Homo sapiens: one gene and its partner. The protein of the gene in region 1 interacts with the protein of each later gene in a pairwise test. Each region holds a gene or a part of one and is shown on either strand. Other genes may lie near its edges. The genes, in order: ZC3H7A and LARP4.

Region 1 (3,818 bases):
AGCATTTTCGGAGGCTGAAGCAGGCGGATCACTTGAGACCAGGAGTTTGAGACCAGCCTGGGCAACATGGCGAAACCCTGTCTCTACTAAAAATACAAAAATTAGCCGAGTGTGGTGGCAGGTGCCTGTAATCCCAGCTACTCGGGAGGCTAAGACACGAGAATCACTTGAACTCAGGAGGTGAAGTCGCAGAGAGCCGAGATCGTGCCACTGCACTCCAGCCTGGGTGCCAGAGTAAGACTCTGTCTCAAAAAAAAAAAAGAAAAGAAAAAAAAGAACTAAACTAAAGCGTGATAGAAATAATGAAGGAAAATGACAAACTTTTATACATGCTAAAAGAATGTGTATACTTACTTGATAAGAAAAAAGTTTAACATCCCCCTCCCCCCAAATCAGTAAATGACCTGAGCAATTTACAGAAAAAGAAATACAAGGGGTCCGTAAAAATGTGGAATAGTTCAACTTCACTGGTAAAGACATGCACATACAAAGAGGATACCATTAAAAAAAATAAATAAACACAAAACGATACCATTTTCCACCTAGAAATTGGTAGATTTTACATATATGTGCACGGGTACCCACACACGTGTACACACACACACACTACCTAGTGTGTATGGGTGCTATAAAGTAAACCACTAGAAACATTTTTCATCATGGCCTTTTTGGAAGGCAATTTGGAAATACTGCTCAAAAGCCTTAAACTATTCATTCTCTTTGACTTGGGGCTTCCACTTGGTTTCTCTAGCGGGCACAGAATTGGAGATGTGAACAAATATTTATAAGGTACTTTGCTGCATTTTTCTTAATAGTGAGAAATTGAATTTCCCCTTGAAAAAGCAAGCAAGATTCAATCCCTAGCTGAGATAGCAGTGACTTGGGCTGCATCTCACAATTTCTTAGAGCAATGCTGCTGTTCTGTCACATTGTTTCCTGTGAAGTTTTAGGTATAAAAATTAAAATTTACTTATACCATATCTTGTTTGATAAAAGGCTTCAAGTGGTAACTTTCTTTTTTTTAGGTATATTTGCGTGCTCTCGTGAGAAATCTTTTTAATGAAGGAAATGACGTTTATCGGGAACATGATTGGAACAACTCGATAAGCCAGTACACGGAAGCCTTGAATATAGCTGATTATGCAAAATCTGAAGAAATTTTAATCCCCAAAGAAATAATTGAAAAACTATATATAAATCGTATTGCCTGCTATTCTAATATGGTGAGTTGTAATTTTTAAAATGATGTTTCTAGAGTGAAAAGAATTTTTTCAATGACTTAGTACATTAATAAAAAGTCAATTTCTTAAGTTTTTAAGAAAGTCATATTACCTGCTTTTGGAGTGGCTTGAGGCTTTTAAAAATTAGCTTTGGATTGGCCGGGCACGGTGGCTCACGCCTGTAATCCCAGCACTTTGGGAGGCCAAGGTGGGTGGATCATGAGGTTAGGAGTTTGAGACCAGCCTGGCCAATATGGTGAAACCCCGTCTCTACTAAAAATAAAAAAATTAACTGGGCATGGTGGCGTGTGCATGTAGTCCCAGCTGCCCGGGAGGCTGAGGCAGGAGAATCGCTTGAACCCAGGAGGCGAAGCTTGCAGTGAGCCGAGATTGTGCCACTGCACTCCAGCCTGGGCGACAGAGCAAGACTCCGTCTCAAAAAATAAAATAAAATAAAAAAATAAAAATTAGCTTTGGACAGAAGGTTAGGGATTTAAGAAATAATTTGTTTCTTAGTTATTGGTCCTTGATGATTCCCATTTGAGTATGGCTTTTGAAGGTGTGTCTGCTTATAAAAAAGTCATCCAGGGAAGATACAGGTCTTCACAGGTCAGTGTGTCTTTCAGGTATCCCTGTTCACAGTTAACATCTTAGTCAAGATCCAGTTGATCTTGTAAAACACTCTTGGTAAAAAACACTCTTACGAGTGTTTTTTTTTTTTTTTTTTTTTTTGAGACAGTGTCTCGCTCTGTCACCCAGGCTGGAGTGCAGTGGCACGATCTCGGCTCACTGCAACCTCCGCCTCCTGGGTTCAAGCAATTTTCCTGCCTCGGCCTCCCGAGTAGCTGGGACTACAGGCGCATGCCGCCGTGCCCAGCAAATTTTTTGTATTTTGTTAGAGATGGGGTTTCACTGTGTTGCCCAGGCTGTTCTCGATCTCCTGAATTCAGGCAATCTGCCCGCCTCAGCCTCCCAAAGTGCTAGGATTACAGGCGTGAGCCACCGTGCCTGGCGAGTGTTTTTTTAAATCAAGAAATAGTAATTAGTCTTCAAAGGAATTCACACTAGATTTTCACATTTTTAAGCTTAAAAGCTTTTGAAGTGCTTTTTTTTCTTTTTTTCCTTTTAAAACTTTTTTTTTTTTTTTTGAGACAAGAGTTTCACTCTTGTTGCCCAGGCTGGAGTGCAATGGCACAATCTTGGCTCACCGTAACCTCCGTCTCCCGGGTTCAAGAGATTCTCCTGCCTCAGCTTCCCGAGTAGCTGAGATTACAGGCATGTACCACCACACCTGGCTAATTTTGTATTTTTAGTAGAGACGGGGTGTCTCCATGTCGGTCAGGCTGGTCTCGAACTCCTGACCTCAGGTGATCTGCCCGCCTCAGCCTCCCAAAGTGCTGGGATTACAGGCATGAGCCACCACGCCTGGCCACCTTTTTTAAATTTTTGAGATGGAGTGTCACTCTGTTGCCCAGGCTGTAATGCAGTGGCACAATCTCGGCTTACTGTATCCTCTGTCTCCTGGGTTCAAGTGATTTTCCTGCTTCAGCCTCCCGAGTGCTGGGATTATAGGCACCCGCCACCACGCCTGGCTAATTTTTGTATTTTTAGTAGAGATGGGGTTTTTACCATGTTGGCCAGGCTGGTCTCGAACTCCTGACCTCAGGTGATCCACCCACCTCGGCCTCCCAAAGTGCTGGGACTACAGCTGTGAGGCACTGTGCCCAACCTGAAGTGCTTTTAATTTTCACTGTGGATACTCGGTAAAATATAACCATGAATTTAAGAAAAATATCCGTGTTGTCACCTAGCTCTTTGTTAAAGAGCATTCATTGTTTATTTATTTTGTTTTGGGTAATATATTCCTTATCAGTTAGCTGTTTGGAGTTACGTTTCTGTTTGACATCTTAATGTGCTCCAGCAAAGGGTAACTACAGAGGAGCGAATAGGAGAGGGACACATGGGGACATCAGTTAGGTCTGGAAAGCTTTATTTCTTGAAGATCTGGGGACTTTCTGACCAAATATTAGCATTTGTCTGACCTGGATGGTGTGTACATGGGTATTCATGATATTCTTTCTACTTTTTTGTATTTGAAATTTCATAAAATAATTTAAAAAATAAAAGTAATACTGCTAACTTGGAGTTTAGAGGGAGGGTAATAGGATGGGGTATTAATTTGTTTTTATTACAGGAAGGCCTCAGTGCAAGAAATGAATTGTTTGATTGCTGACTTTATTCTTTGGTCTTACACACCAGGGTTTCCATGATAAAGTTTTGGAGGACTGCAATATAGTCCTCAGTTTAAATGCCAGTAACTGCAAAGCTCTGTATCGGAAATCTAAGGCTTTAAGTGATTTAGGAAGATACAAAAAGGCTTACGATGCTGTAGCAAAGTGCTCCTTAGCAGTGCCTCAGGTATGGAATTTATAGTTTATTTGTTTACATCGTAACCATTTACATCATAATAAATGGCATTTAAAGAGTTAAATTTTCCAGTCATCCATCAACCTGCTTCAGTTGGGTATAAATGCTAATGAAGCAGGTGTCTTGATGGGAAACTTCCCTGTTTTGTCTATTCTTCTTCACCATTAGTAA
Region 2 (3,818 bases), on another chromosome or scaffold:
CTTTACTAAACCAACTTGCTTGTGGATCATCTTTGGCAGGGTTAATCTGGGATCCCTGGGTCCTCTGCAGTTGTGTTCAATACCTTTTACTTATGTGTATTTTTCTGGAGAGATTCCAGCTTAACTATCCCACTAGAATCAGTAGGATAGATAATAGCAATATAACAATAACAACAGTAGTAGTATATACTTGTATCGTGCTTTGTGTCAGGAACGTTTGATGTTTTTGCATATATAGATATCTGTACATCTTAAGTCTCAATATCTCTATGAGGTGTTAGTATCCCCATTTTAGTGATAAGTAAGGCAGCTGGGCGCAGTGGCTCATGCCTGTAATCCCAGCACTTTGGGAGGCTGAGGTGGGTGGCAAATCACCTGAGGTCAGGAGTTTGAGATCAGCCTGGCCAACATGGTGAAACCCCATCTCTACTAAAAATACAAAAATTAGCCAGAGGTGGTGGCACACACCTGTAATCCTAGCTACTCGGGAGGCTAAGGTAGGAGAATCGCTTGAACCTGGGAGGCAGAGGTTGCAGTGAGCTGAGATGGCACCACTACACTCCAGCCTGGACAACAGAGTGAGACTCTGTCTCAAAAAAAAGAAACTAAGGCACATATAATTTAAACTTGCCTAAGTTTATACAGCTAGTGAACATGGAAGCTTGTATTAGAACTCATCAACCACCTACTTGTATTGGAGTAGAATATATTGCAGACAAGGAATCAATCCTATGTAAATAATACTTAGATGCAACTTTTTAAAACCTGGCCTTGGGCCCAATGTGGTGGCATGTACCTGTAGTCCCAGCTACTAGGGAGGCAGAGGCAGGAGTTTCGCTTGAGTATGGGAGGTCAAGGCTGGAATGAGCCGTGATTGTGCCACTGCATTCCAGGCCGGGTGACAGAGCAAGACCAACTATATTGACTTCAGTAGATTATTGGTTTGTTTTATTTTTTTCCTCTTGAGACCGAGTCTCGCTCTGAGACCGAGGCTAGAGGGTGGCGCAGTCTCAGCTCACTGCAACCTCCGCCTCCTGGGTTCAAGCAGTTTTTTTTTTTTTTTTTTTTTTTTGAGACGGAGTTTCCACTCTTGTTGCCCAGGCTGGAGTGCAGTGGCGCCATCTCGGCTCACTGCAACCTCCACCTCCTGGGTTCAAGTGATTCTCCTGCCTCAGCCTCCCGAGTAGCTGGGACTGTAGGCGCATGCCACCACGCCCAACTAATTTTTGTATTTTTAGTAGAGATGGGGTTTCACCATGTTGGCCAGGATGGTCTCGGTCTCTTGACCTCATGATTCGCCCACCTCGGGCTCCCAAAGTGTTGGAATTACAGGCGTGAGCCACCACACCTGGCGGGTTCAAGCAGTTCTGCCTCAGCCTCCCTAGTAGCTGGGACTTCAGGCATGTGCCACCATGCCTGGCCTTTTTTTTTTTTTTCCTGATTTTTAGTAGACACGGGTTTCACGATGTTGGCCAGGCTGGTCTCGAACTGCTGACCTCAAGTGATCCGCCCGCCTTGGCCTCCTAAAGTGCTGGGATTATAGGCGTGAGCCACCGCGCCTGGCAGATTTTTTTTCCACCTCTGTTCTGAAGGAGAAACAAACAATGTCCCTCTCTGGAAAGAGGTAAAAGTTTGGATGATTCACAAAGTCATCAAACATGACCTGCCATGAATTCTTTTACAACAAATTGTTTGTAAGTTTGAAACTGCAGTGTACTACCTTCATCTGAATGCTATCAAGTTACTTAAAACTTGTGAGCCCTAAGGAGGCAGATAGTAATTTAAAAAAATTTTTTCATTTCTCTCTTTTATTTACAGTTTTTTTTTTAATTTTTAATTTTTTGAGACACAGTCTCGTTTGCTGCAGCCTCCACCTCCCCAGCTCAAGTGATCCTCCCACCTCAGTCTCCAAAGTAGCTGGGACTATAGACATGTACCACCATGCCTGGCTAATTTTTTTCTTTTTTGGTATTTTTTGTAGAGACAGGGTTTTGCTTTTTTGCTCAAGCTGAAATTTTTGTTTAAATAAAAAAAATTAAAACTAGAGACTGGGAAGGGTGGGTATGCAGTGACTACTGAAATTGGGTTTCTGTCTCTGTTTGAGTTTTTCCCTGAAAATGAAGACAGTTGTCCCTCAGTATTTGTGGGAAATTGGTTCCAGGACCCTCTGTAGATGCCAAAAACCTTGGATGCTCAAGTCTTACATAAAAAGGCATAGTATTTGCGTAGCACCTATGCACATCTTTGTGTATATGTTAAATAATCTCTAGATTATTTATAATACCTATTAAAATGTAAATGCTTTATAAATAGTTGCTATACTGTATTATTTATAGAGTGATAAGAAAAAAGTCTCTACATTGTCAGTACAGATGCAATGATTTTTTTTTCTGAGTATTTTTGATTTGTGATTGATTGCTCCACTGATACAGAACCTATGGATATGGAATTCATGGATATGGAGGGCCAACTGTACTTACTTACTTAGGTAGCAGTTAAGTTTCATACGACCTAGGACGCTTTAATAACTCTTAAATAATTAAAACATATTTTAGGTTGGGTAACGTGTCTCATGCCTGTAATCTCAACACTTTGGGAGGCCGAGGTGGGAGGATAGCTTGAGCCCAGTAGTTCAAGACCAGCCTGGGCAACAAAGTTAGACACCCCCCACCCCCACCCCCAACCTCTACAAACAAATTTAAAAAATTAGCCAGGCCTGGTGGCATGTGTTGTGGTCCCAGCTACACTTGAGGTGGGAGGATCACTTGAGCCAGGAGATCGAGGCTGCAGTGAACCATGTTCATGACACTGCACTCCAGCCTGGATGACAGAGTGAGACCCTGCCTCAAAAAATTTTTTTAAATTATTATTTTATTATTTTTTAAGAGACAGGGTCTCACTGTGTTGTCCAGGCTGGAGTACAGTGGCTATTCACAGGTACAGTCATGGCACACCATAGCCTCAAATTCCTGGGCTCAAGCAATCTGGCCTCAGCCTCCTGAGTAGCTGGGACTACAGGCTCATGCCACCAGTTAAAAATATTTTTAATTGTGAAATACATATAACTTAAAAAGTATCATCTAACAGTTTTTTGTTTTTTTGAGAGAGAATCTTGCTCTGTTGCCCAGGCTGGAGTGCAGTTGCATGATCTCGGCTCACTGCAATGTCTGCCTCCTGGGTTCAAGTGATTCTCTCACCTCAACCTCCCCAGTATAGCTGGGACTACAGACGTACGCCACCATGCTGGCTAATTTTTGTATTTTTAGTAGAGACGAGGTTTCGCCATGTTGGCCAAGCTGGTCTCAAACTCCTAACCTCAGATCTACCTGCCTCAGCCTCCCAAAGTGCTGGGATTGCAGGCTTGAGCCACCGCGCCCAGCCCATCTTAACAGTTTTTTTGTTTGTTTTTTGAGATGGAATCTTGCTCTGTCGCCCAGGCTGGAGTACAGTGGCATGATCTCGGCTCACTGCAACCTCCGCCTCCTGGGTTCAAGCGATTCTTCTGCCTCAGCCTCCTGAGTAGCTGGGACTACAGGCGCGTACCACCACGCCTAGCTATTTTTTGTATTTTTAGTAGAGACGGAGTTTCACCATATTGGTCAGGCTGGTCTCGAACTCCTGACCTTGTGATCCACCCTCCTCGGCCTCCCAAAGTGCTGGGATTACGGGCGTGAGCCACTGCGTCTGGCCGAAGCTTTGTTTTCTTTAAGGTTTAAACTAATTTAAGAGAAGTATAACTTCTAAGTTTTCATCTCAGCCTTGTTACTAACATACTCTGATTTAGGGCAAGTCAAACAATTTATAATTATTTAAAGTTT

The links.
Region 2: the proteins of ZC3H7A (region 1) and LARP4 interact in a two-hybrid assay, tested with the Homo sapiens proteins (one large-scale study listed by BioGRID).

The regions. Positions count from the first base shown.
Region 1 is NC_000016.10:11,776,571-11,780,388, reverse strand, and holds part of ZC3H7A (zinc finger CCCH domain-containing protein 7A), read left to right. Parts: intron 1-1,025; coding exon 1,026-1,223; intron 1,224-3,479; coding exon 3,480-3,638; intron 3,639-3,818. UniProt on the Homo sapiens protein: May be a specific regulator of miRNA biogenesis. Binds to microRNAs MIR7-1, MIR16-2 and MIR29A hairpins recognizing the 3'-ATA(A/T)-5' motif in the apical loop.
Region 2 is NC_000012.12:50,403,634-50,407,451, forward strand, and holds part of LARP4 (la-related protein 4), read left to right. Parts: intron 1-3,818. UniProt on the Homo sapiens protein: RNA binding protein that binds to the poly-A tract of mRNA molecules. Associates with the 40S ribosomal subunit and with polysomes. Plays a role in the regulation of mRNA translation.